Linked DNA regions of Homo sapiens: regions 1, 2 and 4 are each reported to be linked to region 3. The links are microRNA targets in miRTarBase. Many come from high-throughput screens and were not tested one by one. Region 3 holds a microRNA gene; each other region holds the end of a gene's coding sequence.

The links. The annotated mature microRNA hsa-miR-4667-5p reads ACUGGGGAGCAGAAGGAGAACC and lies in region 3 at 1,995-2,016, shown strand. An mRNA with a match to its seed (bases 2 to 7 or 8) in the 3' UTR can be bound and repressed. Matches are read on the target gene's strand: a 7mer-m8 pairs with bases 2 to 8, a 7mer-A1 pairs with bases 2 to 7 and ends in A, and an 8mer does both.
Region 1: the mRNA of GTPBP2 is a reported target of hsa-miR-4667-5p. Seed matches in the 3' UTR shown: 7mer-m8 at 1,047-1,053.
Region 2: the mRNA of CLSTN1 is a reported target of hsa-miR-4667-5p. Seed matches in the 3' UTR shown: 8mer at 1,864-1,871, 7mer-A1 at 1,857-1,863 and 8mer at 1,399-1,406.
Region 4: the mRNA of CHD7 is a reported target of hsa-miR-4667-5p. The part of its 3' UTR that is shown has no 7-base or 8-base seed match.

The regions. Positions count from the first base shown.
Region 1 is chr6:43,619,047-43,622,046 of GRCh38, reverse strand. It overlaps GTPBP2 (GTP binding protein 2), which reads left to right. Exons shown (of 12, transcript NM_019096.5): 11 at 1-44; 12 at 257-1,553. The coding sequence ends at 433. It overlaps POLH (DNA polymerase eta), which reads right to left. Exons shown (of 11, transcript NM_006502.3): 11 at 1,524-3,000. Among named protein-coding and RNA genes, the nearest start is that of GTPBP2, 8.7 kb to the left of the region's middle.
Region 2 is chr1:9,728,030-9,731,029 of GRCh38, forward strand. It overlaps CLSTN1 (calsyntenin 1), which reads right to left. Exons shown (of 19, transcript NM_001009566.3): 19 at 897-2,676. The coding sequence ends at 2,479. PIK3CD (phosphatidylinositol-4,5-bisphosphate 3-kinase catalytic subunit delta) reads left to right here. Exons shown (of 24, transcript NM_005026.5): 24 at 1-1,085. Among named protein-coding and RNA genes, the nearest start is that of PIK3CD-AS2, 42 kb to the left of the region's middle.
Region 3 is chr9:35,606,102-35,609,249 of GRCh38, forward strand. MIR4667 (microRNA 4667) reads left to right here and starts at 1,993; the gene lies at 1,993-2,058. TESK1 (testis associated actin remodelling kinase 1) reads left to right here. Exons shown (of 10, transcript NM_006285.3): 2 at 1-4; 3 at 136-184; 4 at 736-882; 5 at 1,226-1,308; 6 at 1,481-1,571; 7 at 1,827-1,910; 8 at 2,059-2,148; 9 at 2,294-2,408; 10 at 2,761-3,148. RefSeq lists a silencer at 1-26.
Region 4 is chr8:60,865,761-60,868,760 of GRCh38, forward strand. CHD7 (chromodomain helicase DNA binding protein 7) reads left to right here. Exons shown (of 38, transcript NM_017780.4): 38 at 1-2,268. The coding sequence ends at 173. Among named protein-coding and RNA genes, the nearest start is that of CHD7, 190 kb to the left of the region's middle.

The sequences.
Region 1 (3,000 bases), not on the chromosome of region 3:
GCAACGTACGTCAGACGGCAGTGGTGGAAAAGATCCATGCCAAGGTGAGAGGGACCTGGCCTTCCATTTCTCCAGAGGTCAGAAAAGAGGGAGGCCTGCCCCAGACTGGCAGAGAACTCCTTGATCCCACAATGGGAATAAAACCCCACTTAGGGTGGGTAGCGGCCTGATAGGCCTCTGGAGGGTGGAGAGCCACGGCTGGCAGAGAATGGGACAGAAGGCACTGGCCAGGGGAGTGACCACTTATTTGCTGCAGGACAAACTGCGGACAGGCGAGAAGGCAGTGGTACGTTTCCGCTTCCTGAAACACCCAGAGTACCTGAAGGTGGGCGCCAAACTGCTGTTCCGGGAGGGTGTCACCAAGGGCATCGGCCATGTCACTGATGTACAAGCCATTACAGCAGGAGAAGCCCAGGCCAACATGGGCTTCTGAACCCTTCAGGCAGGGACAGTTCTATTGCTGTCCCTACAATATATAAGGTGACTTCTGGCCATGCTGCCCTGCCATTGGCGGCTCTGTGTGTTAATAGGCTAGGGAGAGAGGGGTGCTGTCTGCCACTTGCTCCCTGCCAACTTTCTGGAGAGGTGCCAAACTTGGTGTGGCCAGGAAAGGGCAGTCCTGAGGGAGAAGACAGGATTCAGGGCAGTGCTCCGAAGCTGTGTGCTCACCTGGTTGGCTCATCAAACCTGGCAACCCTGTGGCCTGTCTGCCGGAGCTGACTGGATCCACTCATCAATTCTTCGTCCCCACTACTAAGACTGGGCATGTTTTGCTGGTGTGGTCTCTGCACTTCAGGAATGGTCACAACAGGGGGTAGCCCTCAAAAGCACTCCTTTTTCTATACCTCTTCTCAAGGCCATGTAAGTTGCCCATCTCTACCTGGCTGTGGACAAAAGGTTATCTGCTCTTGGCCATCTGGTGGTGGTGGCGGCCCAGAGTCTGAAGAAATGGCACAGGGACAGTGAATGGTAGTGTTGCCACCCTGTGCTGAGGCCTGAGGCCTCTTCCTCAGCTTTATCTCCCTTTCCTTCACTCAAGGGCCATTTCCCCAGTCCCTATCTCCCCCATCCCCTCCCGGCTTATAGGCCCCACAGGTGCTATTTGTTGTGCTGGCCCAGGCGTGGGGCTACCAAGCAAAGGCTTGGCATATACCAAAGGCCAGCTGCATGCCCATCAGTCTGGTCTTTTTCCTCTGCGGTCATGTTGGCTTTCATGCTGGATCAAATGTTTTACTTTCCCAGACTGGTGGCATCTGAGTTCCCCATCCTACCACTCTCACCCCACTTTCCTGCCCCACCTAAACCCTCGTTTTAGTAATTTGTAGTGACTGTTCCCTTCCCTCTGTTGCAGGGAACCAGGAGGAAAGGGAAAGATGTTGCCATATTTCCTACTCTTTAGGCATGGACTCTCCTTTCCCTTTGTTAGTGTCCTGGGTTCCCATGGACTCAGGGATTTGTTGGCTAAGGTTTCTCTGTGCATATATATATATATACATATGTATATATATTTAAATACACATATATATTGTACAGAATAAAAATGTTTTATTGAATACACTGTGCTTATGCGTTAGCTACAGGCTCAGCTTCCTTCCAGGGCTAGATACCTCTTCAGGATTAGAGACAAGTGAAACCCCAACACTGCTGAGCCCTGAATGTGGAAAGAGCCCAGCTGGTATCTCGTTCACCATTGTTTTTCTCTCCTCCACATAGGTTCAGAGTTCCAGTATTGTAACCAAGTATTGTGGCCTATTTTCCGTAGTTCAAGTGAGCAGAATACTGAGGCCTTTCACGTGAAATAGGTAGCTACCCTGTATTTGAAGAGTTGGCCACTTGCTAGTGGTCAGAATAGTAAGGAGCCCACTTCTGTGCCCTGGCAGAGATACAGTGCCAGCTACTTAAAGAAGAGTAGAATTTAGAGACAAAAGGTAATCTGGTCCCATATTTTTCAAGTTTACATAGCCTAAATTACTCTTGGAACAATGAGGGCCACTTGACCAAACCTTAGTCCCTGCTCCTGTTTCCATGTTCATACTACTTGATTTTGACATTTTATGGGTAAATAGGGGCCAAAGTCAACTGTAAATAGAAACTGCATTTTGAGGAGACCCTGGAAAAGAAATATGTGACCCAAAGTCCTATGTGGCATTCTGCCTCTAGAGTATTAAAGTGATAGCTTCCCTACCACTCAGGCTGTTTTATAAAATGTAACTGGTTTAACTTGCTACTAACAAGCCTGTAGTTGAACAACTTCCTCCTGTATTAGGGGCTAAGCTGTTTACTTCCTCTCTATAGCTGCTGATAGAGATGAAAGCTTTGTCCACAATTTACTTATCTTTTGCCTGTATTGTAAAGAAAATTTTGGAAAATCACATTTCAGTACTTAATAAGACATCTCCAGGAACTAGTGAGCCTCTCTGCAACATTAATGGAACATTTAGGGGGATAAAAAGTATATAAGGCAGACTCCCAAGGAGTTTATACATGTTTATGATCCCAATTGTGGTAATCAGATCTAAAATTCTTCACTATATACATTCATCCAATGAGTATCAGCACCTATCATGTGCAAAGCACTATGAAGAATCTTTGCCTTTAAGAAGCTACATAGCTAGTTAGGGGGAAAAGGCCACGTATACAGTGAATGTAGTCTTTTTTTTTTTTTTTTTTTTTTTTTTTTTTGAGACAGGGTCTCAGACTGTCACCCAGGCTGGAGTGCAGCGGCACAATCATGGCTTATTGCAGCCCCAAACTCCCAGATTCAGGTGATCCTCCCAACCTCAGCCTCCTGAGTAGGTACGACTACAGGCATAAGCCACCATCTTTGTATTTTTTGTAAAGACTGTTTTGCCATGTGGCTTAGGCCGGTTTTGAACTCCAGGGCTCCAGTAGTCCACCCACCTCAGCCTCCCAAAGTGTTAGGATTACAAGCATCAGCCACCGTGACTGGCTAAATATTGTCTTTTATTAGATATTCAAGTATCATAAAAGCAGAAAATA
Region 2 (3,000 bases), not on the chromosome of region 3:
CCTGACCTCAGGTGATCCACCCGCCTGAGCCTCCCAAAGTGCTGGGATTACAGGCATGAGCCACCGCGCCCGGCCCACTCTGCCATTGTCTAAGCCACCTCTGAAAGCAGGTTTTAACAAAAGGATGAGGCCAGAACTCTTCCAGAACCATCACCTTTGGGAACCTGCTGTGAGAGTGCTGAGGTACCAGAAGTGTGAGAACGAGGGGGCGTGCTGGGATCTTTCTCTCTGACTATACTTAGTTTGAAATGGTGCAGGCTTAGTCTTAAGCCTCCAAAGGCCTGGATTTGAGCAGCTTTAGAAATGCAGGTTCTAGGGCTTCTCCCAGCCTTCAGAAGCCAACTAACTCTGCAGATGGGGCTAGGACTGTGGGCTTTTAGCAGCCCACAGGTGATCCTAACATATCAGGCCATGGACTCAGGACCTGCCCGGTGATGCTGTTGATTTCTCAAAGGTCTTCCAAAACTCAACAGAGCCAGAAGTAGCCGCCCGCTCAGCGGCTCAGGTGCCAGCTCTGTTCTGATTCACCAGGGGTCCGTCAGTAGTCATTGCCACCCGCGGGGCACCTCCCTGGCCACACGCCTGTTCCCAGCAAGTGCTGAAACTCACTAGACCGTCTGCCTGTTTCGAAATGGGGAAAGCCGTGCGTGCGCGTTATTTATTTAAGTGCGCCTGTGTGCGCGGGTGTGGGAGCACACTTTGCAAAGCCACAGCGTTTCTGGTTTTGGGTGTACAGTCTTGTGTGCCTGGCGAGAAGAATATTTTCTATTTTTTTAAGTCATTTCATGTTTCTGTCTGGGGAAGGCAAGTTAGTTAAGTATCACTGATGTGGGTTGAGACCAGCACTCTGTGAAACCTTGAAATGAGAAGTAAAGGCAGATGAAAAGAAAGAAAAAGCCTTTTTATGTTCTTTTATGTTCTCGGCTCAAAAAGAAACAAGGGAGTGTAGGTTTAAAACCAAAACAGGAGAGAAGACAAACCCCGCTCCGGCTGGAGTTAGTTAGAACCAGAACTTTATTGTAGCGGATACACTTTCTGACCTATCATGAGTATACACATCTGCGAAGGGAAACCGCGCGGCGACAGCGTGAGGACATCCCCTGGGCGTGAGCGTCTGTCCGCTGTCTAAACAGAGCAGCTACAGGGACGGGACATGGAGGATGGCCACACATAGCACAGCCACCAGTGTCCTCAGAACTAGCAGTCAGGGTCACAGAACAGTATTCAAAATGATTGCCCACCTGTTTTAGAAATCTAAAATTTTACATGTAACTAAGAGCAAAGTGCTATGTGGGTTTTAGACCATGACTGTTTGTTTGCTCTCCTGCCCTACCACCAAGCAAAGCAGCAGGGCTCCTGGGGGAGAGGGATTTCAACCCCCCTGATGGCAGGGGGTGCTCTGGGGAGGAGAGAGGAGAGAACAGGCTGTTTTGGAAAATTCCAGCACTTTGACTTCGGGCCATGCGTCTCTCCTGGACGTTCTGAGTACGGATCGCTCAGGCCTCCTGCCGTCTCCAAAAGGAGTGGTCAGCCGGTCTGCAGGACACCTCTCAGTTTCTCCTTTTACCAGCAGGAAAATGTACATTTAAGCATAAACCACAAGGCTGCACACGGTGAGACCAGGCCACTGCCCAGGGAGCTGCTGTCGGAGGAGGAGTGTGGAAAAGGGGCCAGGGACCCCGCACCCCACACCAAATTAGGAACAGGTAGAATCCCAAAGGCAAGGCCCGGCCACTTGTAGCTACCCTGATCCAGTCTCTTGAGCAGCACAGCTAGAGGCCTGTGGCCCCCGACTCCCAGCCATACTCAGACCTGAGCAGGGGCTGGGGCGGGGCTGGGCGGGGTGGGCCTCTCCCTCTGGGGTCTGGGGAGGGAGGACCCGGCGGGAAGAGCCCGTGCTCAGAGCTCCGAACTTCACTTTACATTCCAGTCCCGGGTTACACTAGCACAAAGGACACAAGGAATCCGATTTATTTACAAAATATTAAAAAGTCAGTTAATCATCTACACAGTACCCCCCATCCTGCCATTATTTATACATGCACTAGTTTGGAAAAAATAAAAACTTTTTTTAAAAAAAGAAAAAAATGATTACCGGGTGGGAGTGAGCATGTTTTACCCTTTGTCAACGAGCCCAGCTGGCATGGCTTTTCTGGAGTGCGAGGGGCCAGTGTCCTCTCCCCGGGGGGAGACTCCAGACACAAACGCGGGGCCTGAGGCGCTGGGAGGCCCCTGTGCGAGCCGGATGGCGGCCAGAGAGGACGTGTCAGCTCCTCGTGGGACTGAAGAGCGCGACCAGGCAGAGGGTGGGCGGGGAGCCTAGGGTCCTACACACCAAGCACAGCGACGATCGTGGCGGGGAGGGGTCTGCACACCTACTGGCCGAAATGACTTTGTACATCGTGGACCCTTGGGACTGGGAGAACGGATGGCAGCAGAGTCTTCGAAAGCAGAAACCGAGGTGGCCGGGGGCACGGGTCAGTAGCTGAGGGTGGAGTCATCCCACTCCAGCTGCTGCTGCCGGGTTGCGTTCTGGGGGTCGCCCTGCTCCCCCTCCTCCTCCTCGCTGCTCTCCGACTCGGCGCTGGTGATGTCATCCTCTTCTTCGCCGTCCTCGCTTTCCTCTTCCTCTTCCTCTTCCTCCTCCTCCTCACTGCTGTGCTGGTCCTCATAGGTCTGGCAAGGAGAAGTGACGGCCACATGAGTCCGGCCCTGCCCACAGCCCCGTCACCTGGCATTCTCCTCTCGACAGCCACAGAGGAAGGAGAACTTGCCCCAGCGTCTCCCTCCCCAGCGACAGAGCAGCCAGGACGGCACCGGAAGTTATATTAGAAGTGAAGGGAAAACAAAGCTCCAGTCAGCACCCACGGAGTCACCCACATACAAAGCAGCTTGGGACAGCACCTCAGCTGCCCCACCAGAGAACTCTCTCAGGATTACCATGACCCAAGAGCGCCAAGCCCTGGCATGGCTCTTCTCTACACTTAAGGCAGAACGGCC
Region 3 (3,148 bases):
TAAGGTGAGCGGCCCCAGTCTCTGGGCAGCTTGCTGGGCGGGAGAGAAAGGGAAAGATCCCGCGGGAAAAGTGGAACTGAGGAGGAGCTGAGGCCTTTAATAGCCTATCCTTCTATCTTCCCCATCCTCTTGCAGGTTCATGGGAGTCTGTGTGCACCAGGGACAGCTGCACGCTCTTACAGAGGTGAGGATAGGCCAGGAAGGAGGGATCCCCACCCCCCTTCACCCCCAAGGATAAAGGGAGTCAACAGGCCTGGTGGATCTACGGAGGACTAGTGAGAGGCAACAGGATCTCCTCTCAGGGGAGGCTTTCCTGAACTTTCCTTTAGGCAAACCACATATAAAAGGCCTCAACTGGTCTTATTCTCTGTATCCCCTAGAACAGTGCTGTCCAATAGAATTTTCTTCAGTGACGGAAATGTTCTCTATCTGTGCTGTCCAATACAGTAGCCACTAGCCACATGTGGTTAAATTTAAATTATTTTCATTGTTTAGATTATTTTTTGTGGGTCAACTTGATTAAAAAATTTTTTAAATTATTTAAATTGTTGCACATGGCTAATGGCTATTGAGTTGAACGGGGCAATCCTAGAACATGGATGGGGGGGGTCCTACAGCACAGTCTTACCCCTATGACCTCTGTGATCCTCGGGAGTGTCCCCTAGCGTGTAAGTGGGGGACCTAGAATACAGACTGAAGTCTGACATCTATTCCCATTCTCCTCCTATGCACCAGTATATGAATGGGGGGACATTGGAACAGCTGCTCAGCTCCCCTGAACCCCTGTCCTGGCCGGTCAGGCTCCACCTGGCCCTGGACATTGCCCGAGGCCTGCGGTACCTGCACTCCAAAGGTGTATTTCACCGCGACCTCACATCCAAGGTAGGCTAGCAGGGTGGGTGGAGACATGAAAGAGGGTTTGAGGCTATTAGGTTGTAACTGGCCTGTGGATGTTGGAATATGGATAACAGATATATTAGGATGTTGGAGTGGCAAGGCATTGGAGAATATTGGGGGACCAGGGTGAGGGGAGTGCTCGGAGGGACTGAGTAGCACCCTGTGTTTGGAGTGTTGGATGATGTTGCAATATTGAAGTGCCTTGAAAAACTGGGAGAGCAGAGAGGGTTGGAGTTATGCTGGAGTGACAGGGCTTTGGGTTATACATTGGGAGGCCAGACAGCAGAAGGTGATGAGTGCGTGGGGATACTATGTGTGTGTGTGTCAGAACTGTCTAGTCCGACGGGAAGATCGAGGCTTCACCGCTGTCGTGGGTGACTTCGGGCTGGCCGAAAAGATTCCTGTGTATAGGTGAGATGAATGTCCCTGTTCCCCCCAAATCTCCCAGAGTGCCCCTATCTGATGTCCCCAGAGCCCCAGGGATGTTTCCCTTGGGGAACGGAGGGAGTTCACCTCATCCCCTTTTGCCTGGGGGGGATGCCTGAATAGGATGCTTCTGACCACTCTGCCCCTGCCCCTGCAGGGAGGGGGCAAGGAAGGAGCCATTGGCCGTGGTGGGCTCCCCATACTGGATGGCTCCAGAGGTGTTACGGGGTGAGCTGTATGATGAGAAGGTGAGACATCAACCCTTCAGATCCCCAAGGCCTTCCGAGACCCTTGAGGTATTCTCATAAAGCCCCATCCATCCCCAAAACAACCCTACCAGATCTTCAGGAGTCCCCAAGATCCCTTTGCCCCTCACAGGCACCCTTCTAACACATGAAAACTGTCAAGATCCCCCACCCTCAACCAAATTCTGCTATATTCTGTCAAAATTCTGAAATGAAAACTGTTAATTCTTCCCCGACACTATTATCTCTGACCCCCAGGCTGATGTCTTTGCCTTCGGGATTGTCCTCTGTGAGCTCATCGCCCGAGTACCTGCAGACCCTGACTACCTACCACGCACTGAGGTGAATGTTTCTAGGTTTGCAAAGAAAGAATTCCAGACTAGCTGGCTCATAACCAAGGAGGATTCCCTAGAGGTTGAGGTTCTGACTGGGGAGCAGAAGGAGAACCCAAGAAAAGCTGACTTGGAGGTCCCTCCTTCTGTCCCCACAGGACTTTGGCCTGGATGTGCCTGCTTTCCGAACTCTGGTGGGGGATGACTGCCCACTGCCTTTCTTGCTCCTGGCCATCCACTGCTGCAACGTAAGAGCCTCACACTCCTTCCTGCCCCACCCTGCCCCCATCCGTAAGCTGCCATGGCTGCCCTGTGGGACCCAGGTGATGGGAGGAAACTCAGAGACCCTCTTTCGGAGCACTGAGTGAAGCCGTTCCTGTCTCTACCCATCAGCTGGAACCCAGCACCCGTGCCCCCTTCACCGAAATTACCCAGCACCTGGAATGGATCCTGGAGCAGCTGCCTGAGCCAGCCCCACTCACCAGGACCGCCCTGACACACAATCAGGGTAAGGGAGCCTGACCTTGATCCAGCTTGAGTCCTTTGGCCTTTGTCCTCCCTAGAATTCAGAGGTGACATGGGGGAGGCTAAGTATATTTATTAGTTGAAAAGGCTGGGGGTCGGGCTGGGGTAGGGTGGGAGGACATCTCCAAGAAGACAGTTTCCTAATGCTAAAGCTTGAGGGAGAGGAGGGGAAAGAAGTAAAAGGGGCCTGGAGATGACATCACCCCTTTCCAAAGCACCAGGTGGGACTCCCTTTTTCAAGCTCTAGTCCCACCAGCCTCCTGGAGAATAGTGAGGCCCTCAAGGAGCTGTGATCAAATGCTGAGGACAGTGATTCCAGACTTCTCTATCTACAGGCTCTGTTGCAAGAGGGGGTCCCTCTGCCACGCTTCCCAGGCCAGATCCCCGGCTTTCCCGAAGCCGGTCAGACCTCTTCCTGCCCCCATCACCAGAATCACCCCCCAACTGGGGGGACAATCTGACTCGAGTCAACCCCTTCTCACTACGGGAAGACCTCAGGGGTGGCAAGATCAAGCTCTTAGACACACCCAGCAAGCCAGTCCTGCCTCTTGTGCCACCATCACCATTCCCATCCACTCAGCTGCCCTTGGTGACCACTCCGGAGACCCTGGTCCAGCCTGGGACACCTGCCCGCCGCTGCCGCTCACTACCCTCATCCCCCGAGCTCCCCCGCCGTATGGAGACAGCACTGCCAGGTCCTGGCCCTCCCGCTGTGGGCCCCTC
Region 4 (3,000 bases), not on the chromosome of region 3:
AGGCTGAGGGAGGACCCTTTAAAGATGGAGAGACCCTTGAAGGCAGCGATGCCGAGGAGAGCCTGGATAAGACTGCAGAGTCCTCCCTCTTAGAAGACGAAATAGCACAGGGTGAAGAGCTAGACTCACTTGATGGGGGGGATGAAATAGAAAACAATGAAAATGATGAATAACCAGTACCAGTTCCAGTTCAAGTGTTTAAAACTTTTGACAAGTGGTAGTCCTACTGTTTACACTCACAGTTAATGTTCATACCTAGTTTTATAAGCTGTTCTGTAACATAGTGTAGCAAAAAAAAAAGTTCAAGTCATGTTATACAGGTGTGTCAAAAGGTATCTTGGTCATTAAGTATTGTGCAGTGCATTATTTATTATCCCTAGGAGAGATGAAATTTGAGAGGTGATCATGTCTTTTTAAGGAAACTTACATAATGCTCTGCTTTTTTTTTTTCTCTTGGTACCATTGGTATTATAATAAAGAGCAATTTGTAACTGAGTGGCACTAATGGAAGAAAGTGCTGCTCAAAGGAAGTATGAAGTTATATATTTAATTTTTTAATTTTAATTTTTAATTTTTTTGCTGTGAAGGTCAAGCTGAAATTTACCATACATATCATACTTGCTCATTTGTTTCCCTTTTTGACTGTATGGGGGTTCCCACACTCGTGCATACACACACATCCATACACTCTGACAATCTCCACGCTAGTGTGAACGCCTCTGTCCCGAGGCGCAGCAATAATAAGGCAGCTGTTGAATGTGAAGGGTCCCTTTGGAAAATTAACCTACTGGGAGGGTTCTTGCCAGACAGAACTACAGTTCCATTGTCTCGTGGTCTTGTAATGCACTGGTAAAAACAAAATAAATAGATGAATAAATAAAGAGTGAGAGAAGAGAGAATCAGGTACCTTTTTTAAATTAAAGGACTTTGTTACTTTAGCCACAAAGCTAAAACAGCATTACCTCAGCTCTAAACTAGCCTTGAAGTTTACAGACATGACTTTGTAAATGTATTGTTTTTCTTTGTTGTGATGTCCTTTTATTTTTTTCTTTGAAAACTGCTATCATGTAAGATAAAATGTAAATTGCTGCCAACTGTAGTAATGATGCTTTTAATAAAAGTGACCCATGATATGCAGAGATGTAATTATAGAATGTAGTATATAGGGAAACTGGTGTTCACTCTATTTTTTTTGTATTCGCAATAGATGCAAATACAGCATTCTGGCTTTTGTACAGTTTCTTGATATATCCTCTTATACTAGATTAGCTTTTGGTAAGACACTAAACTGTCTCGAAGACTAGACAGGAAGGAAAACCTTGAATTACTCTCACATAATTCCACTCCAGATATCTCAACAGAAATGCATACAAAAAGCTCCTATTACTCCCTCAAAAGGGCATCTGAGACCGAGAATACTTAGAAATGTGTGCAGCGTGTGATAATGTGGTACACTGAAGAACAAAAGGGCAAAAGAAAAATGAGGCTTTAACAGGCACAATATCTAGGTCATTTATCCTTGGTTAATGGGTAGAAAAACACAATGCGGTAGTGTCAGCAAGGGACACAAAGGCACTCTGGTGTCCTGCAGACCAGCGCTCGATGCCAGAAACCAGTGTGTGGAAAAACCCATGTGGAATTGAAACAGACCCACTTAAGCACGCACGCGCGCACGCACGGTCTCAGGAGCTACTGATTTGTGGACCCCTTTTTGACCTTTGGTATTTAAAGTAAAATATAATTTGAGATCTACTGTTTTCACCTTTTTATGTCACCTGAACCAACACAAAGCCATATTTCCATCCAGTTAAAAAGCAGGGGAAGGGATGTGGACGAGAGTGTTTCGTGTGTGTTGCCTTCCTCCACACCCTTCCCCCAGGACGTCCGCACACAGTCCACCTCCAGCCAGTGTGCTGCCAGACAGGTGGTCTAAATTCCTCCCAGACTGTGAGATTCAGTTCGTTTATGCCCCAAGATGAAAATATGCCCCTTAATGATTCTGGGAAAGAAACAACCTGAACCCTCCACCTTACAGATCCTGTGATTGCTTTTATTTATCATCGTCGTTGTCTGCTGAAAGTGAATGGGCCGTGCACACTGGAGGAAAGTGCCTTGAAGAGAATATTTTTTGAAAGGGAATTATTTGAACACGGGAAAGTGAAACTAGGTCTGCATGAAGTATAGGAAATTTAAGTATTTAAGTAACAAAGATGTTAGCAGGGAGAATTTGCTTAATAAAATGAGTCATTAAAGGGTGTTTTTTTTAAAGTTCTTTGTAGTATTGGAAATTTTCCTATGAGCCTCTGTAAATAGAGAATATAATGTGACACTGTTAGGATAAAATTCTAAGAGCAATGATGATCTTCAAAGCAAAGCCATCAGTTGCTCGTGGCCAGAGGACCCCTGAGTTGTTGGGGCTCACTGGCTTGTTATGTGCATCATCCGGTACTCATCTGTTGACGTGGCTTTAATGTCATTCACATTTTCATATTGAAAAATGCATTTTTTTTCTTCCAGTGAAATTCATTCTTGGTAGTAGATCTTGAATCTACCTAAGTATTTTATTTTCTTTCTTTCTTTCTTTCTTTTTTTTTTTGTTGTTGTTGTTGAGACGGAGTCTCGCTGTCTCCCAGGCTGGAGTGTAGTGGCACAATCTCAGCTCACTGCAAGCCCCGCCTCCCACTTTCACGCCATTCTCCTGCCTCAGCTTCCTTAGTAGCTGGGACTACAGGCGCCTGCCACCACGCCCAGCTAATTTTTTTTGTATTTTTAGTAGAGACGGGGTTTCATCGTGTTAGCCAGGATGGTCTTGATCTCCTGATGCTTGTGATCCACCTGCCTCTGCCTCTGCCTCCCAAAATGCTGGGATTACAGGCGTGAGTAAAGTATTTTCAATTCAGTCAGATACTAATGGGTATGATCGTGTGCCTAGCATGGAGGAAGCACTGAGGTGCCAAGGGTTCTCCTGGCATTGCTCCCTGATGGAAGTTCTGTTCTTCC